Linked DNA regions of Homo sapiens. The protein of the gene in region 1 binds, or shares a complex with, the protein of each later gene. Each region holds a gene or a part of one and is shown in the gene's direction. Other genes may lie near its edges.

Region 1 (4,952 bases):
AGTATGTAAGTGTTAGAAAAAAATATGCATATATAGGCCGGGCGTGGTGGCTCACGCCTGTAATCCTAGCACTTTGCGAGGCCTAGGCGGGTGGATTGCCTGAGCTCAGGAGTTCGAGACCAGCCTGGGCAACACAGTGAAACCTTGTCTCTACTAAAATCCAAAAAATTAGCCGGGCATGACAGTGTGCACTTGTAACACCCCAGCGTTGGCAACAGATACCTTCTTCTCCCTTGGCTGCTTCAGGGTAGAGAAGAAACACGCTTGCCCCTTTCTGACTCTGTCATAACTCTTGCAGAATGTATCACAGTATTTTACATCTTTCTTTCTTTTTGAGGCAGAGTCTCGTACTGTCACCCAGGCTGGAGTGCAGTGGCGCGACCTGGGCTCACTTGAAGCTCCGCCTCCCAGGTTAATGCCATTCTCCTGCCTCAGCCTCCCGAGTAGCTGGGACTACAGGCGCCCGCCACCACGCCCGGCTAATTTTTTTTAAAAAAATATTTTCAGTGGAGACGGGGTTTCACCGTGTTAGCCAGGATCGTCTCTATCTTCTGACCTCGTGATCTCCCGGCCTAGGCCTCCCAAAGAGCTGGGATTACAGGCGTGAGCCACCGCGCCCGGCCTATTTTACATCTCTTTACATCTTAGTACTTCTTCGTCTTGGCTGTTTGTTCCTTACTGGCAGTGATTTTTTTTGGGGGGGTGGGGTGCGGGGGACGGATTCTCCCTCTGTGGTCCAGGCTGGAGTGCAGTGGAGCGATGTCAGCTCACTGCAACCTCTGCCTCCCGGGTTCAAATGATCTTGTCTCAGCCTCTGGAGTAGCTGGGATTATAGGCGTGGTCCACCTCCCCCACCCCTGTTTAACATATAATCAAGAAATAACCATAAAAATGGGCAACCAGCAGCCCTCAGGGCTGTTCTCTCTATGGAGTAGTCATTCTTTTATTCCTCTACTTTCCTAGTAAACTTGTTTTCACTTTATGGACTGGCCCTGAATTCCTTCTTGCCGGATATCCAAGAACCCTCTCTAGGGGTCTGGATCGGGACCCCTTTCCTGTAACACATATTCCAGTGGAATACGTTACATAATAAAGGCAGAAATTGTAAAAAATTTGAGCTTACAGTACAGGTAGTAAGTATCAGGGACCAGTAGAAAGGAGAAGGGTGCCAAGTTTTATCAAATGAGCAAGATATTTAAGGAATGAGTTTATCTCATAATGGGGTAAGGAAAAAAGCTGAGACTCTCATGGCTTCTTCAACTTGGTCCAGGGCTGCAGACCATTCAAGAGAAATTCAAATCAGGCATAGGGCTTCATCAACCCACAAACCAATTCAGCCGGTCTCAGCTTATGATACTTATAACCCTGAGGATACTTGAAGCCAAAAAATGAAACATAAATTATCTTATTGGAACATCTATGTTAACTTAGTCCGTTACTTTTGTATTAAAAGTAAACACATGTACATACAAAACATTATGTGCCTAATAATTCATTTATTAATATTTTCTTTTGCCTGCTTATTTCTTGTTAGGTAAATTTTAATCTTCTCTTGTCTATTCCCCCGTGCTACCTAATGAAATTTCTGTTCTCAGTATTCAAGCTGCACAGCCTTATAATTTCTGCTGAAGGACACTTCAAAAATTTTAGGAGGAATATTCCGTCTTTGTTACAACTGAAGAAAAGCAGAGCTTCTTTTGCACCATAAAGCTGCTTCTGATATAGTGGTGGATTGAGACCTTTCACAGAAATGTCACTCTAGTGTCCAATGTGGGGACTAGGTGAAATTGAACTAACAATTGATCTGAATTCTGTTATTAAAGATGACTTTTAAGGCAACTATACATCTGATTGTTTTATTCTGAGAAATGATACCTATAGCCATTAAAGTCTGATTGAATGCCATTTTCTTATTTAAATGAACACATCCTACATTATGGTCAAGACTGCATACATCATAGAGAAAGTATATTGCAAAGAAAAGTGATGCTTGGGTGGGCTGCTTTGGGCTATCATCCAGATTCCATGGGGTAGTTTTCCCTTCTAATGGGAATAGTTGGGTGTAGATGTTTGAGAAATACTAGATGATGTGATTGCATGATGGGAAAACGCTTTTGTGCTTTAAACTGTGTTGGCTGGGTGTGTGGGGCTCATGCCTGTAACCCAAGCACTTTGGGAGGCCGAGGAGGGTGGATCACCTGAGGTCAGGAGTTCGAGACCAGCCTGACCAATATGGTGAAAACCTGTCTCTACTAAAAATACAAATAAATAAATAAATTAGCTGGGGGTGGTGGCTTGCGCCTATAGTCCCAGCTGCTCAGGAGGCTGAGACAGGAGAATTGCTTGAACACAGGAGGCGGAGGCTGCAGTGAGCAGAGATCCTACCACTGCACTCCAGCCTGGGTGACAGAGTGAGACTCCATCTCAAATGAAAAAAAAAAAAGGTATCCTCTAAGCCTAATGAAATAGAAAGTTTCATCATTACCGTTTCATTCTTTTGCTTTAGAATATTACACAGGCTTTGTTACTTACCCAGGACAAGCCATAATTTCTCTGAGACTCAGTTTTCTTATCTGTAAAGTGAGAAGAGTAAGATCTATTTCACAGAGTAGGGATTAAATGATAAAGTGTATGTAGAAGAACTTTAAACACTGAGTAGTGCCTGCTGTCTGTAAGGCATTATTACAAAACTACCACAGAGAGGGATAACATTTGTTCACATCAGTTACACTTTTGTACATTTTAGATCTCTCGAGAGGAGGATGCTTCTGCCCATGAGAGACTCTTGAAGATATTAATTAAGCTCACAGATTTCTACTTTGTGTTTAGTGTTCAGGAAGTCCCCTTGAAATCACTTTTACTTTACTTTGACTTCAGTAGGAAGATAGTTCATAATGACACCATCAAAGTAAGTTTTAAGCGTTTCGGGCCTGCTTTTCTCAGGTTTGAGTTTTTATAGTTTGTAATGATTTTTTTAGTAAAATAAGCATATGATTAAAAGTTTTATATTAACTACTACAACTTTTAAGTATCAGTTGCTTCTACATAACCACTATATTTACTGTTCTGAACAATACATACTTCAAAGCACATGAAATTGAAAAAGCAAAGCATCTTTACTCTCTTCATAGAGAACAGAAAAAAATATTAAACTTTTAAGCATTATAAAATACTTTATTGAATAAAATGTTAGCAAGTCAGCAATTGATGAATAATTTGCTTTGAAACTTTAACTTGTAATCTGGCTAATTAGCACTAATTTACAAACTATTCTACATTGTAAAGGAGAAATGAATTTCTGGTGTTGTCCTTCTTTGATTTAGAAGCTTAACATCTGCAGGACCTAATTGGCCATTGATGTGAGGGTGAGGAAGAAGGAACCACATCGCAGGGAGAAAAGACTAAAGGAAGGCAGAGGCTCTAATATCAGGTCAATATAGGTCAGCACACTACCCACATGAAATGGCTTTGGCTGGGTTCCAAGGTCAAGTAAATAAGATCAATTTTTTCATTCCTTCAATTACATATTTTTTTGCTAAGCTTCGGTCATTCATGGTATACAATGCATCTAACTTGCTGAGCAAAATGCTAGACATGAAATAAATGTTAGCTATGGTAGAAGAGCTTCAGTAACAGGTAACCTGAAACAGGCTGATAGCTCATAGAAGGGCATGCTTGAATTCGGGGAAAAAAAAAAATCTCTGTTAAAATGGGATGCAAAACACTTTATACATTGCTTTTACAAAAGTTAGACTAATTTAAAGGAAAGTCTTCAAAAGCAATCCGTGATCGATAAAATTACAGAAAAAAATCAGGAAAGGGGGAAATAATAAGGGAAGAAAGATTAGCAGAACAATCTTCCGCCCCAGTAAAGAGGACTGAATTTTAACCAATGAGATCACAAGTTTGAAAATTTCCTTTTCAGGCCCAATCAAGAGGAGGCTATGTCTATAAATACGACTGCCTAGACCCTCTCGTATCAATGAGACAGCATGGCCCGTACTAAGCAGACTGCCCGCAAGTCGACCGGCGGCAAGGCCCCGAGGAAGCAGCTGGCTACCAAAGCGGCCCGCAAGAGCGCGCCGGCCACGGGCGGGGTGAAGAAGCCGCACCGCTACCGGCCCGGCACCGTGGCTCTGCGGGAGATCCGGCGCTATCAGAAGTCTACGGAGCTGCTGATCCGCAAGCTGCCCTTCCAGCGGCTGGTACGCGAGATCGCGCAGGAGTTTAAGACGGACCTGCGCTTCCAGAGCTCGGCCGTGATGGCGCTGCAGGAGGCCAGAGAGGCCTACCTGGTGGGGCTGTTCGAAGACACGAACCTGTGCGCCATCCATGCCAAGCGCGTGACCATCATGCCCAAGGACATCCAGTTGGTCAGCCGCATCCGCGGGGAGCGGGCCTAAGGTATATTTTTAAGTGGTCGATCTAAAGGCTCTTTTCAGAGCCACTGCCGTTTTCATCAAGAGCAGCTGTACCGGCTCTCCATCTGATGTGCGTCTGCCTTGCGCAGCGGTCAGGGGCCAGGGGCACTCGTGGTGGGTGACGTTACAGAACCCAAAGCCCAGCCGTGAGTTGGCCGGCAGTAGAGAAAGCCGCAGAGGCATGGTCCTTGTGGTTCCGGCCGAGCCTTTTCACGCTGGTTTAAGGCTAGAGGTCCGGCTCCCAATTCTGTGGGTAAAGTTTTGCATGGGGGCAAGAGACTATGGGGAGTTTCTAGATGTGGAAGATCCTGAGTGTAAGGGTGGGGCGAGTCCCTTAAAAATTATAAACTCGTTTCCTGGTTTATTTAGGAACTATAAGCTTAATTAAAGCTCAGCATCTTCCTCATTGCATACTACAGGCGGTGTCCAAGCCAGAATAGTAATTTAAGCGGGCGGGAGTAAATATCTGGCGATTTTTAAAAATGTGTGGGTGAGGTAGTATTTCAAGGAAGAGAAAAAAATTTCCACAAA
Region 2 (7,528 bases), on another chromosome or scaffold:
GGAAAAGTCCTTTTCTTCCTTGACAGGCCTTGGCTCCATCTCCTTGGGCCTCTGTCACGGCTTTCCTTCACAGGATACCATCCTTTTTCTGAACTCTTCTTCAAAAGGAACATCAGCCCTCCTGATTGCAAAGGAATACTGAGCTGATGGTGTCATCCAGCAGCCTCCCCTCCCAAGCAAAGCTTCTAAAACTGGGGGTCGGTGCTCAAGGGAAGGATTTGCTATGACCTCATAGAACCTTGTCCAGTGTGGCCACTTACCCTATCCTTACCCTCCTTATCCTCAAAGTTTGGGCTGATGTAAGACTAGAGGCTGGCCCTCCCAGATAACAGAGAAAAGGGAGCCCCAAATGCAACCAGCCTCTTGTTCTATTCTTGCCTGCAAAAGAACAGAGGTTTCTCAAATGCCTCAGTCCCTGAGAGCCATTTCTTCCCCTACATCGTCTCACTTTGCTTCCTATTGACTGCTGGTAGAAGGAGATTTGGGGTAGGGGCTAGACCTCCTTTTATTTGAAGGGGGCAAGGGCTGAGATGTGGTCCCCAAGGGGCCAGAAATTCCCAAGTTGGTCACAGGTGGCTTAGAAGTGTGTGTTATGGTTTTACGGATTTCCTTGAAGCCTCTCTCCTTCTCTGCCTACAAAGACCCTATACTCTCAGTCTCCCCAACCCACCCCCAAGGAGCTGTGGGAGGCTTTGTGTTATCTGTGAAACTCCAAAACAGGGGTGTTGCGGAGAAGGGAGAGTTCAAGGCAAACGCAAGGACTGGACTTAGCTCCCTAGGTGCCACAGTCAGATGCCGGACACGGATTTATATATAAATATATATATATAAATATATTATACTCACTCATCACGGCCATCTTTGTTGTAACCATTTCTGTGTTTATAAATGCATTATCTCTGAGAATTTTCATATTTGATGTTTTGTTTATTTTTGTCCTTTTTTTCCCTCTCTCCACCCCTGTCCTCTAGCCACAGCATTTTTCTTTTTGTCTTTTTTTTTTTTTTTTAAATCATGGCAGATTTCAGAGGAAAGGAAATTAAAAAAAAAATCAGGAAACCAGTTGTTATAAAGTAATTTAAAAATGAAGAAAAAAAGAAAAAAACTTATGTACAAACCAAGGGGTGTTTTTAGAACATTGTATAGAAATAAATTCATGTAAAAGGATCAGAGGCAGTGGAGCTACTGATGTGAGCGAGCATGCGGAAAAGGTATTTGGGGAGATGTCCAAGAACAGTACTGAGGATTTATACCAGAGTGTGTGTGTGATGAACAAGTGCTTGTGTGATGATGCCCCATTTGTGCAATTCTCCAGTCATGGAAGGGTACAGTTTCATGATGTCTCCAGTGAAATCCTGGTTTATGAGGACTTCTACATACACATTCTGTCATGGGGATTGCATTGCCTAAATATGTGAGAGCAAGGCTTTGGTTATGTGTTAACAAAACAGCTAAGCTCCCTATGGAAGAAAAATGGAAGCCTCTTGAAAGGACCTACACTCCTGCCTGAGTCTGTGGAAGAGGGGCTTGCAGTTGGCAATGTGTATACATATGTGTATTTGTTACCTTGTGGAAATCATAACCGGTTAAGGGGTGCAAGATTGATTTATGCAGGAGAGCTGTAGTACTATGGAGTAGAATGTGGTCATGAAACCTGGACTTCAGCCCTTTGCCTACCATCAACCAGTGTTGGCCAGGGTGCTTCTTCAACTGTTAGTGAAGGGATTGGACTAGATAACTCTGAAGATACCTTTTTTGAGAATTAAGTAACTTGCTTTAAGGCTGGGTGCGGTGGCTCACGCCTGTAATCCCAGCATTTTGGGAGGGCGAGGCAGGCAGACTACTTGACGTCAGGAGTTCAAGACCAGCCTGGCCAACATGGTGAAACCCCATCTCTACTAAAAATACAAAAATTGATGGCCGTGCACGGTGGCTCACGCCTGTAATCCCAGCACTTTGGGAGGCCGAGACAGGTGAATCATGAGGTTAGGAGCTCGAGACCAGCCTGGCCAGTATGGTGAAACCCCGTCTCTACTGAAAATACAAAAAATAAGCTAGGCATAGTGGTGGGCGCCTGCAATCCCAGCTACTCAGGAGGCTGAGGCAGGAGAATCTTTTGAACCTAGGAGGCAGAGGTTGCAGTGAGCCAAGATCGTGCCATGGCACTCCAGCCTGGGCGACAGAGTGAGACTCTCTCTCAAAAAAGTAAAATAAAAATACAAAAATTAGCCAGGTGTGGTGGCACGCGCCTGTAGTCCCAGCTGCAGGCTGAGGCAGAAGAATGACTTGAACCTGGGAGGCGGAGGTTGCAGTGAGCCGGGATTGCACCACTGCACTCCAGCCTGGGCCACAGAGCGAGATTCTGTCTGGAAAAAAAAAAAAAAACAAAAAAAAAAAAACCTTGCTTTAAGCACCGAAAAAGTTGTGAAAGTTGTGACCAAGCTCCCACATCCTGAGAACTCTGGGACTGCTGGCCAATAGTACTTGTTATGTAGTTGGGCTGGGATAAATAAAGCCCACTTAATTTAGTGCTAGATATCCTGTGTGGGCACCTAAGATGGTGTCTCAATATGTTGTGTAATACCAATGAATGTATCACATATGACCAAATATGCCAATGTTTCTTAGCTCCCTGCATATTTACTGCTTTTTCCTCCCACTCTCACCAACTCTTGAAAAGGCCCTAATGGCCCTAACTTCATCACCAGTATTAGAACTAGAATCTACTCTTTTTATGGATACACTCACACTCACTTATTCCAACAACCCTATGAGGGAGGTAGTAGTCTCATTGTATAGTAAAACAGGCACAGAGATCAAGTTACCGAAAAGCATGACTTTTGTAATTAGAGCAGTTTCCCGGATTCTATTGCTGTATCTTACTACCTGCACACTAGTAAACCTGGGGTTTACAGGCTACAGATCCTTTCAGCTCTGATACCCCCACCACTCTACAGCCCCTGAACCCCCTCCTCCAGCCTGCTCTTACTGTCCAGATAATGTTTCAAATACATCCCTGCATCCATCTCGAAGCAAAACAAAGCAACTTCCAATCCGCCCCGGGTTGGAAGTTCCTCTTCTCCACATATTTGGTAGAAATTATATAGCTGAAAGTCTGTCTCTTTAAAAACTTGCCGTAAGACATTGGTAATTCTTATGAAGGATGTGTGAGGGTACGAAAAGTGTGAGGGGTGGCAGCTATCTCTAAAATACTATCTTACTAACACCACTATTAGGTTATGGCCTTTGTGTTGGCAGTGTGTTGACAGCCTAGTGTGTTGGCAGCCTCTCATACCCTTGACTGCTTCCCATTCTGATGAAAACCATAGAAATCACTCTACCATAGCTGACTAGAGTGATGGCTAGCAACTAACTAGCCAACTAGCCCAGTAGTGATACTGCTGCATCCCTCAATCCCTTCAGAATTATGATGCTAACATCACATATAAACAAAAGGAAAACAAAAACACGAGATTTCCCCCTTAGAGAGTAGCAAGAGGGGCCAGGCACAGTGGTTCGCACCTGTAATCCCAGCACTTTGAGAGGCTGAGGTGGGCAGATCACCTGAGGTCGGAAGTTCGAGACCAGCCTCACCGACATGGAGAAACCCCATCTCTACTAAAAATACAAAATTAGTCTGGCGTGATGGTGCATACCTGTAATCCCAGCTACACGGGAGGCTGAGACAGAAGAATCACTTGAACCCGGGAGGTGGAGGTTGCGGTGAGCCATGATCACGCCATTGCACTCCAGCCTGGGCAATAAGAGTGAAAATTCTGTCTCAAAAAAAAAAAAAAAAAAGCAAGAGGGCAAGGCAGGAAGTAATATTTTATATGTGAAAGTGTATTCTAGTGTAACGTACAGGAGCTCTGACAAAAGATGTGCAGAATTATAGCTTTATTATGAGTCATTCTTTGTATTTATAAGTAGAAAGGTGATCATCTTTCTCAAGTTAAAAAAATAATGCTGGGGGAGATGGTGTTTGTGTGAGTGAATAGAAATTCAGACGGTTTAAATGTCTCAAGGCCTGATACTCTTCCCCAACTTCCTTAAGAAACTAACTGGCTTGAAAAAAGTCATTCTGCAAAAGAGGGAAAAAAAGTTGGATCTTCCAGTTGCTGAGAAGGTATGTTTACGCAATATGAGCCTAAAGTGAACAGTTACCCCTGCACGGATTACCATACATTCCCGTTTTGGAGGGAAAAAAGTTTGCTAGAGAATGCAAAATGGCGACCTCCAGTGACGTCATACCTGTCTCGGTCGCGTCCTGGGGTGTCTGTAAGGGCGGAAGCGGGCTACAGCCGCCTCACTGTGGGCGGTCGTGGCTACCATGCAAAAGGAAAAGTTTCAGTGTCGGGCGGATGTGTACCGGCGGTAATATAGTAAGGGCGGAAGTTCTCCTTTAAGGGCGGAAGTTCTCCTTTTAAGGGCGGAAGTTCTCCTTTTAAGGGCGGAAAGGCTTTAGCCGCAAAATGGCTTCGGCCCCTGTCGCGTTACAGTCACTTCCGGGGCGGATCGGAAGTTGCTTTGTTTTGCTTCGAGATGGCTGCGGGGATGTATTTGGAACATTATCTGGACAGTAAGAGCAGGCTGGAGGTGGGGGTCGGGGCTGCAGAGTGGTGCGGGGATCAGGGATGAGAGGATCTGTAGCCCTTAAGTTCCAGTGACGAGAAGGTCACAATTATGAAGCGGTTCTGTGGCAGGAAATATTGGAGGGTGCGGAGAAAGAGGGGGCGGGGCAGCAGGATCGAGGCCCCGCTGATGGGTGTAGACGAGGGAGGGGTGCGGTGTGGGGGTTAGAGACGTGTCTTGAAGGGCTAGTGTGCATGGCCAGGAAGATAGTTGCTGCCCCCATTCTCCAGGGTCTCCAGCCTCGGTAGATTTTTTTCCCCATAGTCGTTCAGAATCGTTATCACACACTGCCATTTGGAGAAGCGGTAAAGACCTCTCCTCCACTCCATTCTTCCTCAAAAGTGGCTTCTCATGGGGTTGAGAGTGGTGGTGATGAGTGACCACTGTCAGATGATGAACTAGAACGCTTCTCTTCATGGAGTAAAGATCTAATTCCCATCAAATGAAAATCTGGTGTTTATGCGATTTATGTAAACCACCCCTGCAGAAAGCCTATTGCTCTGTGCGCTTACATTTGTTTTAGGGCCCGGAGTCATTTATTCAACAAATATTTATTGAGGTCCTGCTATGGGTCAGACATAATGGCAGGCACTAGGGATAGAAAAATGAGTAAGACAAGGCTCCTGCCCTCAAGAAGCTCACGATCTAGTAGGAAACAGATTCTGCAAATAATTATAAAACACTGTGACAAGTGAGATAATGGAAATACATTAAAAAGGACACTTGGTAGGCAACCCTGGAGAAAAGGGGGGTAATTACCTGGGGATGTAGGAAAAGCTTTACAGCGGAGGTGATGTTTGAATAGGGTCTTGAAGGTTATTTGCCAGTGAGGAGAGAAAAAAGGAATTCCAGGTTGGGGAAAGCATCCGCAAAGGTACTGTGATGGGTTTGTGGCAAGGTCAAGGGTGTTTGATATTTATGACTCAGAGGTCAGCGTATTTGATATTTATGAATCTAAGGTAAGAAATTGAGAAAGGAGACTGGAGAAAGAGGCTGAGGCTAGATTGGACAAGGTCTTTTAAGCCAAACGAAGAAGTTTGCATTTTAAAGTAGAGTATGATTTTTATAGAGGAAAATGACTAATATATGGTAAATTGGAGCATGATATTGTTGATAACAGAGATCAATTAGTGATAACATTCCAGGACAGAGATAAGAACCTGATTTTAGGGAGTTACAGAAGTATTTAGGAGTTAAATATGAAAGGACTGACTGAATGACTGAGTGGTTGAGAGAGAAGGAAGAATCTAAGGTGGCTTCTTCCTGCTTAGAAAGTGAGGTAGACAGGCTGGGCACAGTAGCTCATGCCTGTAATCTCAGCACTTTGGGAGGCCAAGGCGGGCAGATCACTTGAGGTCAGGAGTTTGAGATCACCCTGTCCAACATGGTGAAGCCCAGTCTCTACTTTAAAAAAAAAAAAAAATTAGCTGGGCATGGTGGCATGTGACTGTAATCCCAGCTACTTGGGAGGCTGAGTCAGGAGAATCACTTGAACCCAGCAGGTGAAGATTGCAGTGAGCTAAGATCATACATACCACTGCACTCCAGCCTGGGTGACAGAGAAAGACTCCGTGTCCCTCTCAAAAAAAAAAAAAAAAAAAAAAACAAAGGCTGGTGGCCAGGCACGGTGGCTCATGCCTGTAATCCCAACACTTTGGGAGGCTGAGGCAGGCGGATCATGAGGTCAGGAGATCGAGACCAGCCTGGCTAACATGGTGAAACCCCGTCTCTACTAAAAATAAAAAAAATAGCCAGGTGTGGTGGTGTGCCCCTGTAGTCCCAGCTACTTAGGAGGCTAAGGCAGGAGAATCGCTTGAACCTGGGAGGTGGAGGTTGCAGTGGGCCGAGATCATGCCACTGCACTCCAGCCTGGGCAACAGAGTGAGACTCCGCCTCAAAAAAAAAACAAAAACAAAAAGGCTGGGAGCGGTGGCTCACGCCTATAATCCTAGCACATTGGGAGGCTGAGATGGGTGGATCGCCTTAGGTCAGGAGTTCCAAGACCAGCCTGGCTAACATAGTGAAACCCCGTCTCTACTAAAAATACAAAAATTAGCTGGGCGTGGTGGCAGACGCCTGTAATCCCAGCTACTTGGGAGGCTGAGGCACAAGAATTCCTTGAACCTGAGATTGCGCCATTGCACTCCAGCCTGGGCGACAAGAGCGACACTACACCTCAAAAGAAAAGAAAAGAAAGTTACTCAGCGGAGAAAAGATCATGCCAACTGCTGCAGAGATATTTTTTAGGATAGGCTTAATAACACCATTAGATTTGGTAAATCACCAGTGACTCAGTCTTGTGAACTGGTGGTAGCAGACCTGAAGTTGTAGGTTTAAACAGTAGAGGCATTTTATTTTTTTTTATTTATTTTATTTTAGTTTTTCTGTTTGTTTGTTTGTTTTTGAGACAGAGTCTCACTCTGTCACCCAGGCTGGAGCGCAATGGTGCGATCTTGGCCCACTGCAACCTCTGCCTCCCGGGTTCAAGTGATTCTCCTGCCTCAGCCTCTTGAGTAGCTAGGATTACAGTGCCCGCCACCATACCCAGCTAATTTTTGTATTTTTAGTAGAGATGAGGTTTCACTGTGTTGGCCAGGCTGGTCTCAAACTCCCAACCTCAGGTGATCCACCCACCTTGGCCTCCCAGAGTGCTGGGATTACAGGCATGAGCCACCGTACCAGGCCTTTTATTTTTTATATATATATTTAATTTTTATAGAGACAGGATCTGGCCATATTGCCCAGGCTGGTCTCAGACTCCTGAGATCAAGCGATCTACCTGCCTTGGCCTCCCAGAATGCTGGGATTACAGGCGTGAGCCACTGTGCCCAGCAAGTAGAGGCATTTTTAAAGTTTTAGGTGGAGTCTTGGCAAGAGATTTCTCTTGTACTGGGGT
Region 3 (7,472 bases), on another chromosome or scaffold:
GTTCACCGTAGATATAACCACCCCTCATGCCTTTGGTATCTCTTCCTTCTTCCACTCCAAATCACAAGCATATTCATCCTTGGGGCAGAAATCCTCCCAAGTAGGAGCCCAGGAACCCAGAGTTAAAAGACATATACATCTAGTATAGGCCAAGGCTTTTATTTATTTATTTATTTTTGAGACGGAGTTTCGCTCTTATTGCCCAGGCTGGAGTGCAACGGCGCGATCTCGGCTCACTGCAACCTCTGCCTCCCAGGTTCAAGCGATTCTTCTGTCTCAGCCTCCCGAGTAGCTGGGATTACAGGCGCCTGCCACCAAGCCCGGCTAATTTTTTTGTATTTTTAGTAGAGAAGGGGTTTCACCGTGTTGGTCAGGCTGGTCTCGAACTCCTGACCTCAGGTGATCTGCCCACCTCTGCCTCTCAAAGTGTTGGGATTATAGGCATGAGCCACCGCGCCCAGCCGGCCAAGGTTTTTAACATGCCAATTTGTATTTAATAAGCTTGCTATAGGAGGAAAAATATATGTAGAACCTTTGATCCAATCTCTAGAAGTTGAGTATGGTTGAGAAACTGCAAAGAAATTAACTATATGCCAGGGTTGGTGGTGCATGCTTGTAGCCCCAGCTATTCAGGAAGCCAAGGTGAAGGATGGACAGTTCAAGCCAGGCCTGGGCGAAATAGCAAGACTCCTTCTCCAAAATATAACAAAAGCAAAATAAAAGAAATTTGCTATATAGGTAAGTTTCTCAAAACATTTCATTAGCAAGTTGGAGGACAGCAGGAGCTGCCTGGCAAGTTGAATCAATGGTCTTAGTATCCTAGAAATTCATAAATTAACTTGAATTCTATTTTTCCAATTTTTTATTTTGAAAAGTTCGTTTTCCAGAAAAGTTGAAAAAACTGCACAATAACACACCTAGACTCATCACTTAGATCCACCAACTATTAACAGTTTGTTACATTTGCTTTACCTCCATATAAAATACATCAGTCTCTGAGGCATTTATATGTCAGTTGTAGCCATCAGGTCTCTTGTCTAATGATTCAGCACTAACATCCTAAGAACTAGGGCATTCTTGTAAATAGCCACTGTCACACTGAAAAATCTAATGATGATACAATAATACTGTCTAATATATAGTCCATATATAACTACAAAGTTCCCCAGTTGTCCCTCAAATCTCTCTCACAGCTTTTTTGCCTTCAATGCAGTGCTGCATCAGGGGTCACTTAATGGACCAACCCAGTTGTGTTATCTGTCTGGACCAATTCCCTAGCTTGACTTTTTTTAGAGTGTAGTGCAGGGAAATTGTTTTGCTGAATGTCTTCCAACCTGGATTTTTCTTATTTTTTTTTCCAACTTTGATTAGATTCACTTAAACATTTTTGGCAGCTATACATGGGTAATATAAAAACCCATTTGTGACATTCTAATGAGCTAATTAGCAAGGCCTTAGATGCAGCTGAGATATGTACCACTCTAGAGTGTGACCTTTACTGATATAGGGCTGGGTGACATTACTGGACTGTGCATTCTTTTATTTTTAATTTTTTTTTTTTGAGATGGAGTCTCACTCTTGTTGTCCAGGCTGGAGTGCAGTGGTGCAATCTCGGCTCACTGTAACCCCTGCCTCCTGGGTTCAAGCGATTCTCCTGCCTCAGCCTCCTAAATAGCTCGGATTACTGGTGCCTGCCACCACGGCTGGCTAATTTTTATATTTTTAGTAGAAATGGGGTTTCACCACGTTGGCCAGGCTGGTCTAGAACTCCTGACCTCAAGTGATCTGCCTGCCTCGGCCTCCCAAAGTGCTGGGATTACAGGCGTGAGCCATTGCAGCTGGCCGGCCTTTGTTTCATTTTAAAAAATTTTATTTATTTATTGTACAGTTGGGGTCTTGCTATGTTGCCCAGGCTGGTCCTGAACTCCTGGGCTCAAGCCATCCTACCACCTTGGCCTCCCAAAGTGCCGGTATTACAGGCATGAGCCACAATCCTGTGTATTTTTTTTTGAGATGGAGTTTGACTCCGTCACCCAGGCTGGAGTGCAGTGGCACAGTCTCGACTCACTGCAAACCCTGCCTCCTGGGTTCAAGCGATTCTCCTGCCTCAGTCTCTGGAGCAGCTGGGATTACAGGCGTGCACCACCACGCCTCGCTAATTTTTGTATTTTTAGCAGAGATGGGGTTTCACTGTGTTGGCCAGGCTGGTCTCAAACTCCTGACCTCAAGTGATCCACTTGCCTCGGCCTCCCAAAGTGCTGGGATTACAGGTGAGAGCCACTGTTCTTGGCCTTTTTAAAATTTTTTAAAATTTTATTTATTTTAGAGTTGGGGTCTTGCTATGTTGCCCAGGCTGGTCTCAAACTCCTGGGCTCAAGCCATCCTCCAGCCTCAGCCTCCCAAAGTGTTGGGATTACAGGTGTAAACCACAGTCCTGTGTATTCTCAATAGCTCCCAATGAGATCATCACCAGTGGCAAATTTTAAATCAGGGGTTGGGGATGGAGATGAAGGTGGGGCCACATATTTGACTTTGAAGACGTTTTCCGTGAATTTTGGAGGAGTGTGTGTGCTACTGGCATCTAGTGGGTGGAGGCCAGGGATGCTGTCAAACATCCTACAAAGCATGGAACAGACCCCACATGAAAGGATTATCCCATCCCAAAAGCCAACACTGCTGAGGTGGAGAAACCCAGGGATCTCGCCAATGAGATGAAATCTTCCAACCAGCAGACTTCTTGGCACCTACCTTCTTCCCATCCCTCTTTGTTTCGGAGATGACCCCACTGCAAGACATTAAACAGGCCAGGCGCGGTGGCTCACGCCTGTAATCCTAGCACTTCAGGAGGCCGAGGCCAGCGGATTGCTGGAGGCCAGGAGTTTGAGACCGGCCTGGCCAACATGGCGAAACCCCGTCTCTACTAAAAATATTTTTAAAAATTAGCTGGACATGGTGGTGCGCGCCTGTAATCCCAGCTACTCGGGAGGCTGAAATGTGAGGATTGCTTGAACCCAGGAAGCGGAGGTTGCAGTGGGCCGAGATCATGCCACTGCACTGCAGCCTGGGGAACAGAGTGAGACTCCGTCTAAAAAAACAAAAAAGACATTAAACACACAAATGAAAGTGAGTAATTTCTCAACACTTGGTAACTTGTAAGTACAGCGATACACTTTTATATCTCAGTTTTGAAATTAGCTCTCTAGTTGGCCTGTGAACGTCCCATGCCTGCCAAGTGTGTCATCTGAGACAAGCACTTCAATTTGTTTGAGCAGGCATCTATCAATCTTATTTGTTAGAAAAGGTGCCAGTGAAACCCCAAAGAGTATTGCTAACTAATAACTGTGCTGCAGTTTAGAGTGTTCAAGGTGCTTTCCAGTAACATGTTCTGGAATTTGATCTGACAACGCTTTGGGAGGCGGTTTATTACGATGAGGCTGCGCTGTCGCACTCGAGGAACCAGGTCAGTGACCTGCTCCAGGACACGGGACTGGCGGGGAGGGGAGAGCGCCTGGACTCAGCCTCCAAGTCTCGCACTCGACTCTGCAGGAGTAAAAACTATTCTTGATCCTACCTCTCTCCCTTCTGCAAACAAGCAACAAAATGCTGAAAAGGCATCTTAACTGAAACGGAAGTCAAATGAATTCGCGTGCGATCATGGGAATTTTTGGCTCCTAACCTTGCGAGTAGAGCTGGGTGAGTTCCATTTGTGGTGGGGGAGTGGAAACAGGTTTCTGGGCTTGCAGAAGCCACATCCCGTCCCCACACAACCTAGGACAGGCCAGGTACTTGTAGGTGAGGCTCCGGGGCTCCAGCTAACCTGAGCTACCTGGGCTGGGCTTTGTGCGGGGAGGCAGCAAGCGGGGTGAGCCGGCGACGACGCCGGCCTCTACGCAGTGCGGTGGTGAAGACGTCTCTTCCAGGGAGTCACAGGAAGCAAATCCATCCTTTTAAAGGGCTCGCGTCCCGCGGCCCTGAACCGGCGCGCTGGAGCAGTAATGCGACGTTCTCCGAGGTTCAAGGCTCACGGCCCAGCCCTGTGATCCAGTTTCCTCAGTCTTCGCGGTGTGCACCACTCAGGACGACTTGCGGCTTACGTCCAGGACAAAGGGGGCTTGTCCTTTCTTCAACGTCCTACTGCGCAAAAACGAAGCCCTTCTCAGGCTGCCTGCCTTCCAGGAAAAGCTGCGCCCCCTCAGGAACCTGTGCCCCGCGCGCCTGCCGCCGCCCATTCCCGGCGCGCACCTGGCAGTCCCGGGCTCGAGCCCCGCCCTGCCGCCAGCCAGGTGAGAGGGGCCAGGCCCCGCCCTCGCCGGCCCCGCCCCGCCCCACTGCGCCTGCGCAGTCGGCCGTCGGCGCCAGGCGCCGGGGCGGCGCGGCCGTCGCAGTTCGGCGGGCGCAGTGCGCGTGCGCCCTGACTGTTGGGGGGCGGGCGGCGTCCGCGGCGAGGGAGCGGGGGCGGGGAGGCGCCGTCTGGCTCAGGCTGGGGCCGGCGGGAGCGCGAACGAGCGACGGCGGAACCCGTGGGCCTGTGGACTGCAGCCTCGGCGGTCAGCAGGTGAGGCCCGCGCAGGGCGGGCGTGGGTCGTGAGGGAGTGCGGGCTGCGGGCGGGCCAGCGGTGCGGCGGTCTGCCCGGGGGCGCAGGTGAGCGCGGCCCGCGCGGGGCCCGGCGGAGCATTGTCCAGCGGGCGGCGCCCGCATAGCGCCCCCTGCCGGCTGGGCCGCGGCGGGGACCCGGGCTGGGCGGGCCTGGGCCTCGGGGCGGGCGCGCGCTCCTTTGTTCGCCGGCCCCTACTCCTCCGTGCCCCCATCCCCGCCGCCCCCCGCCAACATGGCCGCCACCCTCTCGTCCCCAGTTCCCCGGCCGCCGCCGGCCCCTTAGCGCGCGCTTTGTTTGGAGCCGGGCGGGGAGGCCGGCGGGCAGGGGGCGGCGGCGCTGCGCAGTCGGGCGCGGGGAGGGGGCGCTGCGCCAGAATGCAGGCGGGGAGGGGGAACGTTGCATAATCCCGGGCCGGCGACGGGGGCGGGGCGGGGGGAGGGGCGGGACCCCGGCGCGACGGGTCGGGTCACCCCGGGGACGCGGGCCTGCCCTGGGGCCACCCCTCCCAGGCCCGGGGGATGGCCGCGGACCTTGTAAGTTGCAGGCTCCGCGGTTCGCGGCGCCGGAACGCCCACCGGCCAGTCCTCGCGCCCGCGCAGCCCCTTTCCTGATGCGCCGTCTCTTCGCCGCCCTCCGTGGGGGCGCGGCGAACGGGTTGCGTGCTCTGGAGAGAGACAGGCACTTTTCCTCTCCATCGTGAGTGACCTTGGGTGTATTCGTCAAGGAATGTGTTGAAACGAATTGTGCGATGCGGGAACTGCGCAGCGCCTCGGGTTTGGCTTTCTCGAGCATTTTATTGCATTGATTGTGCGTTCTCGATTTTACAGAGGTTCGTTTTGAGTAATGGCTTCAGTAATGTCATCGTATACGCATTTCAAAGTTTGTTTATGGAATTGTTTTTACATTTATTCTCTTTTTACTTATAATTTTTGAATCAGATTTTGTGTTTTGGAGAGATTTTCCGTACGTGGTGGAAGTGTTTTCACTCATGGTAAATATGGATTGTTTGGCAATTTTATCACGTTAATCACAAAACAATACCAGGAACATTTAAATGTCTTAAAGGATTTCACTCTACATGACTTGTGCCAGAGACGACACACGTACCAAAACGCGATTACCTGTCTTAACTTTTTTTCTATTGGAATTTTCTGGAAGGAATTCCATGCAATCCGAAAGGATTAATGGAGGGTACAGTAATTGCTTTCTACATCGCTTTTGTTAAGCAGTGAAAATTAAACTTGGAGATTTATACCTGGATATACTGAGTTTTTTTTAACACTCTTTTGAAGTGAAATTTTGGAAAGGGCAGGTGAAATGAGGCTTCTTCCAACCTCCCCACTCTCCCCCCTCAGCTTTAGTTAAAAGGCAAACACCAAAATATTGTAGTACCTGGTAATTTACAGAACGTTCGTTATCAGATTTGATAATTATATATTAAGGTTGTAAAGAATGTGTATGCCAGAATTATAGGTAGTAGATCCTAGATTCTTAGGAAAAATAGTTTCTTTATAATCTTTTGAGTAGTGAAATGGTTACTTTTACAATGGTTATGAACTGGGTCAAGGCAAAAGGGCCACTATATGTCTTCAGTCATCTTTCTATGCCTGAAATCCAGGAAACAGTGAAAATGGATGTTCCCTGGAACAGCCATTGCGATGCCATATGTTGGTCATTGGTGTCCTTAAAGTGTATCTCAGATAATTGTGTGTCTCCCTTACTTGTGAACTGAGGGGTCACAATATTGATGTGCCTGATGTGTGCCCCTCTGCATTTCGTGGGTAGTGTCTCAAATTTGGCTATCATATTGATGAGAGTTACTAATTTGGTTTTAGCTGCCAGAGGTTTAGGTGGTTTTCACTTCCAGTGACTTACCTGATTGCACATAGTTACAACGTTACTGGTTGCACTCCTTCATTGCTAGCATCTTTTTTCTAGTATATTCGATATACATTCTTTTGGTTTATCCTTTAAAATATTTGCTGAGATAGCATTTAAATGTTAATGCTGTATTTATATTTGTTGGATGCTTAATTCAATGTGTCTTCTTTCCCTTTCCATGAATGAAAAGAAATTGGAAGAAGAGAATCAACTATTTCGTGCAAGTATTTTGTTCAGTTTAGAAGATGTTATGGTATTGTGAAAACAATATTCTGGAGTTAGACATGGAATCACAATGGCCTTCCAAGTCAGAACAGTCTGGGTTGAAATTGACTCCTTACTGGTCCAAAGCCACATAACTGATTCATCATGCAGCCTTTTTTTAAAAAAAGTTTTTTTTTAAAGCTACTCAAATATGTCAGTTTTATTTTCTCTGTACACACATTTGTTACTGAAAATTGCAAAAACAGCACATTGAAGGTCCTCTTATTGGAGTTCACATTTTTGAAAACCAGAAAATTTAATAATTATGCTCTTGCCAAACTACCCACTGTTTTCTTTATATTCTTGCCCCACAAGTTGCTTTACTTGAACTCTTGGGTTGGGCTTCATCTCACTGACTTCAGGCTTCTAACACACATAGGACACTTAGGACCTACTGGCTCTTTGGGTCACATCAGGGAGGAGAGCTGAAGTATGTTGAAGTTACTCAAATACATTCAAGCTACATAGATCTCTGATAAATTATTGGTGGTATGGTAGAAATGAAAATATACCCAAAAAAATCACAGAACTGTTTATTAAAATTATTGGTATACAGGCTCTTCTAACATAGATTAGCTTTCTCAACCTAATACATAAAATTACCAGCAAGAAAAAAAAAGTACAAGAATGACAGTTTATGGTTGAATTGGCTTGGTGTCATGATTCCCTGTTGTAGCATTCTCAGGCTATCTATGATAACAGAAACTGCAGCCACATTTGAATGGTTCC
Region 4 (7,394 bases), about 29 Mb from region 1:
AACTGTAAACTGCTGTTCAAATGTGGTGTTTATTACTAGAATTACAACGTGCCCCTGAAAGGCCTTAGAGACACAGAAAAGCCAATAGATAGTAATTAGACTCAGAACTCTGCTATCTGTCCTGCTTTTCTTGGTACTAATAGTTCTCACTCAGACAACAGAGTACCTAGAAGTCAAAGTGTACTTGGTACACCATGGAATGATGAGAACTAAACTTTACATTATTTTTAAAATTTGTATTAATAAATTTTTTTTGTAGAGATGGGGGTCTTGCTATGTCGCCCAGGCTGGTCTTGAACTACTGGCCTCCAGTGATCCTCCTGTTTTCCTCCAAAGTGCTGGTATTACAGGTGTAAGGCACCACACCCAGTTGAGAAGTGAACTTTAAAAGATAAAATGTCACCTTTAGATCCTCTGGCCTCACCCATTGGTGAGTGCAAGTATTGTACATTTACAGAAATATCCCAGATTTCAGCTGCAGCTCAGCATCCTTCTGCCGGTTCTCATGTACTCTTCTGTTCCTGCTGTTCAGCATGGCTGCTCTGTCCAGAAGGTGCAGACCAGCCTTTGCAAATCTTCACGCTACCCTTGGGCTACTGCCTTGCTTTTGCCAACCTCCTGTGCCCAGATGATGGACACATCGTGTTCTCACCATTGCTTACCTACCTGGGTCACTCACCTCCAATGCCCTTTCTCTTTCCTAGACAACTGGAAAACTCCTTCCACTATTGTTTACCAGCAACTTAGAGGAGTTTTCTTCATAGCAGAACTGCTATGAACCTCCTAAGAGCTCTTTCCTTTATTTCAGAACTGGTTTTTTCTGATAATGCTCAAACCAGAGGAACAAGGGATAGTAGCCTAGGTCAGGAAAATGGCTGGACACAGCCTCTACCTCTACCTGCTGCTCAGTTTGGGCCACAGCATGATTCCTCTTCTTGAAATTTTCTCTCAGTGGCATGTGTTTCTCCTGCCAGTTCTGTTTCCTTCAGGGAACTTTGGGTCTACTTTAACATCCATGTTCACCATGTGCTGGGTGCTGTTATTAACGTTTTACAAATATTGTTTGTGAGGCAACCTTGAGGTAGGTCCTACCCGTAGCAAACACCCTTTCATGACTGAGGGAACTGAGGCAACCTAAGTAAGTTTCCCTAAATCACATAGCTAGTAGGTGATGGAACCAGATTCAAACCAAGCATTTTGTCCCAGGGCATAATGAACCCCATGCTATGCAGTCTATTAGACAGGTTTGTGCATTATCGTATCTCAGCCTCATCTGTGGACTTATTTCATAGTTTCTCCTGCAAGATTTCTGGGCTCCCACAGAAAATCAAGGATGTAACTGGGTCTGTTTCAATGATCCTAAATATTTCATGAGTTATACTCCAGGCACTGCCTTCTCAGAGCACACAGTGAACTTCATGGGGGCTGTTTCCATCCTATACAAATTATATAGTTTTCAAAAACAACACTTTTATTCTAGATTTTAATAAAGGCAAATGTAGCAGGCATCAAAAGGTTAAGAAAACTCATGGAAGCAAAACTTTTGGTTGAGAAATTCAGTTCATTAGCTTATTTTTTTGAAGTGAATTTGAGAAGAAGTGTTTATGATTTATACTCCATATTTTTCACCACCTTTACAGATTCTAACCTGATCCAACCAACCGAGTTATTACCCTATTAGCCCCTTAACTGGTCTTCCTTATTCCACTGACCATTTACAGGTGATTCCTCTAGGAAGCAGCCACAGTGACTCTTTTCACAATTCTGCTTTGAGTCTTTGCTCAAAACCCATCCAAGCCTTCCTATCTGACTCAGTGGTCCTAAGGCTAGGGTATGAGTACTCCTGGGGTACTTCAGTGAAGGAAAATTTTCCAAGGGGTACATAAAAAAGTAAGGGTAGTTTTAAGGGAATTACTCCATCATATATGTGAGTGTGTAGATACATACATGTATACATATATAGTTTTTAATGCAGTAAAGACTGTGGCAATGAAAAATGGAGTTGATACAGGACCTTATCTCATTCTAGCAATGTTATATGCATTCATGCCTACTCGAAATAATTAGGGGAAGGGGGAAGACTCCCAGCCATATCATTAAAACATTCCCAATACTTTTCCATGTTTAAAAAATATAACATTTTAATATACTTTAAAAAATGGATAGTATTAAGCCACTTTAGTGTTTACTTCCCTATTAGATTAAAAATAATTTTTAAATGTCAGTATTACAGAATGTCACAAATTAAACTCTGCAACTATTTAAACTTCTGAAAAAATTTAGTCAACTTACAATGTTTGAGGAAAGAAAACAGCCTTCCAAAATTCTTTCAAAGGGCACAAAAGTTAAAAAAAAAATTGAAGACCATTTCTGTACATGACCTGGCTCCCTTAATAACTCTCTTATCTCATGTCCTACTATTCTCTCCCTTGTTCAAGCCACTCCAGCCACACTGACTCCTCCTCTAACAAGCCAAGAATCCGTTTCCCTCAGGCCCTTTGCACTTGTTATGTGTTCCTCTCCTGCTCTTCTCCAAGACAGGTTCCTTCATCTGATCAACAGGGGCCTTCTTCAATCACCTCTAACCCCTTTTACCCCACTTATTCTTTTCTTCACAGCACTTACCACTCCCTGGCATGTATCTATTCTCAATCTTTTTCTCTATTAGATTGTAAACCCCTTGAATGCAGGGAGCTCCTCTGTTTTGTAATCCCAGTGTATCTCTAAAACACTATGACAATAAAGAGGTCAGGAAACATTTTTGAATAAATTTTAAAAAGTTTTCAGGAGGCTGGGCGCAGTGGCTCATGCCTGTAATGCTAGCATTTCCAGCGGCTGAGGCGGGCCAATCGCTCGGGCCCAGGAGTTTCAGCCTGGGCAACATGGTGAGACCCCAGCCTCTTCGAGGCAAAGGGAAAAAAAAGATCAGCTAAGTCATGGTGGCGTGCATCTACGGTCCCAGGTAATTGCGAGGAGCACGGCTTGAGCCTGGGAAGTCGAGGCTGCAATGAAATGTGATGACGCCACTGCACTCCAGCCAGGGCGACAGAACGAGGAGGTCTCAAAAAAAAAAAAAGTTTTCACGTGGTTTAAGGACTTACAGCACCTTTCTTGGGAACACTAACAGGAGACCAAAGCATTTCATGATCTTAACACTAAAACAGTTGTTGCACTACATAAAATCCTCCAAATACCTTTTTTTTTTTTTCAAATAAAAAGGCAACTTTCTGAAAGCTTTTCTTTTTTTTTTGAGACGGAGTTTCGCTCTGTCGCCCAGGCTGGAGTGTAGTGGCGCTATCTCGGCTCACTGCAGCCTCCGCCTCCTGCCGGGTTCAAGCCATTCTCCTGCCTCAGCCTCCTGAGTAGCTCGGATTACAGGCGCACGCCATTACACCCGGCTAATTTTTATATTTTTAGTAGAGACGGGGTTTCACCATATTGGCCAGGCTGCCCACGAACTCCTGACCTGACCTCAAGTGATCTGCCCGCCTCGGCCTCCCAAAGTGCTGGGATTACAGGCGTGAGCCACTGCGCTTGGCCTGAAAGCTTCTACTACCATTGTTGTAAGGGCATTTGTCACCCAGCTCAACCCAGGACACTTAAAGTGGGACCTCAGAAGGACGCAGTATTGGTTATATCCGTGGCTCTCCAAACTGACATACATAAGAATCAGCTGAAGGGACTTTTCCCCCTCCGTCGGCTCTCTCCCTCACTTCCTGATTCAGGTCTGGGGACTGGCCCTGGCATCTCTGCTTTGAAAAACTCCTCCGTTGATTCTGATACGTAGCAACTCCTGAGAATCACCTTAAGATGCCAAAAATAGCTGTTAAAGAGTTTCTTCCTCACTCGGTCTTTTCAGCCTATTTCTGATAGATCCTCAGTTCAAAAACAAAAAGCAAAAAAAAAACAAAAAAAAAAACCAAAACCAAACAAACAATAAGCCCCGCTTTAGTGCTCCACGGCCACCCAAAGGAACGCGGCTGGTCTACGCACAGCAGAGACCCAGGAGGTCCCGGCGATCGAGCGGCGCGGCAGGTGAAACTTCCGCGGAGACGCCCGGGACACGCTCGCAGGGACCGGAACCGTCCCGGCTACCACCCTTCCGTATGCACCACCGCTGTGTCGGAGTTCATAACCAACCCCAGCCAAAGGCTACCCAGCGTCAACGGCCTCTGGCTTTAAAAAAAAAATCTCCCTTCGGGTTAAAGAGCCGCGGCACTGACGCAAGGAACTGGCTTCGAGGGTCCGGGACCGCTCCGCGCCCGCGAACCGAGTTCCCGCCTCCCTCGGGAGGACGTCCGTGCGTACGTGCGCGTGCCGCAACCGCCCTCCTTCAAACGCGCGACGCGAGGGCGGGGGCGCCGCGTGCGCGCGCGCTCTCGTTGGTTCGCTCTCTCGCTAGCTCTCGGCTGCCGCTCTTGCTGCGGCTGCGGCTGGGGCTGGGGGCGGCGGCGGCGGCGACGCGGGCGGCGGGCGGCGCGGGGCGGTCCGGCGGGTTCAAAGAGGAAAACATGGCGGAAAACAAAGGCGGCGGCGAGGCTGAGAGCGGCGGCGGGGGCAGCGGCAGCGCGCCGGTAACTGCCGGGGCCGCCGGGCCCGCCGCGCAGGAGGCGGAGCCGCCTCTCACCGCGGTGCTGGTGGAGGAGGAGGAGGAGGAAGGCGGCAGGGCCGGCGCTGAGGGCGGCGCGGCCGGGCCCGACGACGGGGGGGTGGCCGCGGCCTCCTCGGGCTCGGCCCAGGCTGCTTCATCTCCTGCGGCCTCAGTGGGCACTGGAGTTGCCGGGGGCGCAGTATCGACGCCGGCTCCAGCTCCAGCCTCGGCTCCCGCTCCGGGTCCCTCGGCAGGGCCGCCTCCTGGACCGCCAGCCTCGCTCCTGGACACCTGCGCCGTGTGTCAGCAGAGCTTGCAGAGCCGGCGTGAGGCGGAGCCCAAGCTGCTGCCCTGTCTTCACTCCTTCTGCCTGCGCTGCCTGCCCGAGCCGGAGCGCCAGCTCAGCGTGCCCATCCCGGGGGGCAGCAACGGCGACATCCAGCAAGGTGAGCCGGAGGCCCTGCCTGGCATCTGGGCCGCAAGGGATTTGCGCAACCCTAGAGGAGCTGGGGACGGAGGTGCTGGGGCCTGGGGCTGCTCGGACGGGCGCCATCCCGAGGGGTCTCTAAGGTGAAAGACTCGCCCCTGGGACACTTTCCAGAGAAGCTGGACCGCAAGAGATAAGGGGAGCATGAAGGGAGGGGTGCCGGCTGCGAGAGGCTGGGGGAGGGGACACTGGCTCCGAGGGAGGGTTTGTGATGTGCGGAACCCGGCCGAGCGCTGGTTCTGGAGCTGGCAGACCCGTACAGTGAGAGAAGGGGGATTTGGGAAACACGTTGTGAGGAAGCGTTTTGGCTGAAAGGGCCCGGGCCAGCGAGGTGTTGAGGGAGTAGGTAAGAGGTAAGGGCAGTGAAGATGGATTGCTTTGGAGGGAGGGGACTTGGCGTGTTCACAGATAGGAGAGAGGAGGACTATGGATTAAATGGAGGTGGAGAGAATATGTTGGAGAGCAAGGGGTCCAGAGAAGGCGCCTGGAAGAAAATTGTAAGATGACATGGGGAAAGAGAAACTCGGAAAGTGGACTGCATGGTTAGGGAAAATCCTAAGGTTTGGGGATGAAGGAGAAATGAACTTTGAAGGAAATTGAGAGTTAGGGAAAGCTGGGCATGAATTTGTTTTAGCTAATTGGCCGTTAATGAGCCCCTAGTGTTGGGGCACTGTGCTAGGATTGAATAAAGTACTCAATGAAGACTTCATTCACAGTCTAACAGGAGAAACATATAACTTGCAGCAGTGGAGGTGAGTCCTCAGTACAATGGTTGTGGCACAATAGAGGAAAGGTCAGGGAAATTTCACAGGAAAGGAAATCCATGAACAGGTTTCTTGAAGAATGAGTACCTCACTGGGTTGGAGGGTATTCAGGGCACAGGACACCCTTCTACATCCCTGGAACTAAAGACTGTGTAGGGTGATTGGTGGAAATTAGATTGGATTGATGGGCTGAAAAGATAAAGGTTTCACAGTCTCTTAAACTCTTGGGATCCAGGTGTAAGGACTTCAGAATATTTTGGGATTTTTCTTTTTTCTGGCAAGGTCTGTTATGTGAGACTTTTATCAGGGTCTGAGTTAACTCTATCAAACACGTTAATGTTTCTACATTGAAACACGTGAATGTCACGCTAATGGGATAGACGATAAATAACCTCCCAGCATTCACAGTGGGTTCTGTTGCAAACCAATGAAAAAAATTAAAATTTCAAAGCTTTTGAATTTCGGGACTGTAGGTAAGCGATTGTGGAGCTGCACTAAAGGGCTTGGAATTCATCCTGTAGAGTGTATCCTCGACATTGTGGACTGAAGGATGTTCCTGGAGGGCTTTCATATCAAGAGGATAAAAGGATCAGATTTCTGATCCAGAAAGATCACTTAGGGCACTTGAGGGATGAGGGAAGGCAAGGCTGGAGACAAGGAGACCAGTTAGGAGAATCCTGGCGGTTATCTAGGAAAGAAATCAACATTTGGAATGGGTAGTAAAGGAATGATATATCAGGTATTACAGAATGAAGCATTTTGGTTTGGGGGAACGGTAGGGTTTGGAAATCTACTTTGCCATCTCCTACTTACGACTTGGGCAGATGACCTTTTCTTAGCTTCAGTTTTCTCATTTGTGAAATGGGAAAAAAGTATATAACCTCATAGGGTTATTGAGAGAATGAAGTAAGATAAAATGTGTAAAGTGATTAGTACGTGGTAGTTACTAATGAAATGGTAGCTAGTATATTAATAGTAGTAACTAATAGTGGCTATGGGAATGGAGGGATGGGGGGAGTGTATTGAGATTGGTGTGAGGGAGACAAACGTAGAATTCCACATTTTTTGTTTGGTGGATGGCAATGCTATTAATACATATTCAGACACTGAAGCAGGGCTGGGGTGAGGGTGAGGGCTGGGGTGTAGGGAGGATAAAATGTTTTCAGATTGGGATGTTTTGGGTTTCTAGCATTATTGGTACATGTAGGTAAGAATGTTAAGAGTAAGGCTTTGGTTGTTGGAGAAGCTACTAATTGTTAGTAGGTGTTCAGAGAATAACTGCTGGTGGTCTGTGCACCCATGACCATAGTAAGACACATAGGATTCAGTGTTCTTGTGGGAACCTGGGTTAGGTAAGAGATTTAGAGGGAACCCAGAAATACAGATTGTGTTTGACTGATGTGGCTGAGGGACTGAGGTTATGAAATTGGCTCTCTGAAATTTATGAAGGAGAGAGAATAATATGTAAATCCCCTCTTCATTTCTTTATCCTTTCTTTTTGAAGGAGGGGGAGTAAGTGGAAGGGACTAACCAAATGCTGTCAATCTTAAGT

Evidence for each region.
Region 2: the proteins of H3-7 (region 1) and ING4 are in contact, whole or in part, in a crystal structure (PDB 2VNF), measured with the Homo sapiens proteins. Residues at the interface, in NP_001342338.1 of Homo sapiens: Ala2, Arg3, Thr4, Lys5, Gln6, Thr7; in NP_001121054.1 of Homo sapiens: Tyr198, Ser205, Tyr206, Gly207, Glu208, Met209, Ile210, Gly211, Cys212, Asp213, Trp221, Phe224, Lys232, Pro233, Arg234, Gly235, Trp237.
Region 3: the proteins of H3-7 (region 1) and SPIN1 are in contact, whole or in part, in a crystal structure (PDB 4H75), measured with the Homo sapiens proteins. Residues at the interface, in NP_001342338.1 of Homo sapiens: Ala2, Arg3, Thr4, Lys5, Gln6, Arg9; in NP_006708.2 of Homo sapiens: Gly93, Phe94, Asp95, Cys96, Tyr98, His139, Met140, Phe141, Glu142, Thr143, Lys148, Asp149, Trp151, Tyr170, Asp173, Val175, Tyr177, Tyr179, Gln180, Leu181, Asp183, Asp184, Asp189, His252.
Region 4: the proteins of H3-7 (region 1) and TRIM33 are in contact, whole or in part, in a crystal structure (PDB 5MR8), measured with the Homo sapiens proteins. Residues at the interface, in NP_001342338.1 of Homo sapiens: Ala2, Arg3, Thr4, Lys5, Gln6, Thr7, Ala8, Arg9, Lys10; in NP_056990.3 of Homo sapiens: Asn886, Glu887, Asp888, Trp889, Cys893, Asn895, Gly896, Gly897, Asp898, Leu899, Leu900, Cys901, Cys902, Glu903, Cys905, Val908, His910, Phe921, Pro922, Ser923, Gly924, Asp925.

What each region holds. Positions count from the first base shown.
Region 1 is NC_000001.11:143,905,007-143,909,958, reverse strand, and holds H3-7 (histone H3-7), read left to right. Parts: upstream 1-3,981; 5' UTR 3,982-3,992; coding exon 3,993-4,403; 3' UTR 4,404-4,449; downstream 4,450-4,952. UniProt on the Homo sapiens protein: Core component of nucleosome. Nucleosomes wrap and compact DNA into chromatin, limiting DNA accessibility to the cellular machineries which require DNA as a template.
Region 2 is NC_000012.12:6,660,116-6,667,643, reverse strand, and holds the start of ING4 (inhibitor of growth protein 4), read left to right. Parts: upstream 1-4,524; 5' UTR 4,525-4,542; coding exon 4,543-4,579; exon of another isoform or gene 4,580-4,596; intron 4,597-7,528.
Region 3 is NC_000009.12:88,383,984-88,391,455, forward strand, and holds the start of SPIN1 (spindlin-1), read left to right. Parts: upstream 1-4,460; 5' UTR 4,461-4,555; intron 4,556-5,128; exon of another isoform or gene 5,129-5,216; intron 5,217-7,472. UniProt on the Homo sapiens protein: Chromatin reader that specifically recognizes and binds histone H3 both trimethylated at 'Lys-4' and 'Lys-9' (H3K4me3K9me3) and is involved in piRNA-mediated retrotransposon silencing during spermatogenesis.
Region 4 is NC_000001.11:114,508,194-114,515,587, reverse strand, and holds the start of TRIM33 (E3 ubiquitin-protein ligase TRIM33), read left to right. Parts: upstream 1-4,384; 5' UTR 4,385-4,511; coding exon 4,512-5,037; intron 5,038-7,394. UniProt on the Homo sapiens protein: Acts as an E3 ubiquitin-protein ligase. Promotes SMAD4 ubiquitination, nuclear exclusion and degradation via the ubiquitin proteasome pathway. According to PubMed:16751102, does not promote a decrease in the level of endogenous SMAD4.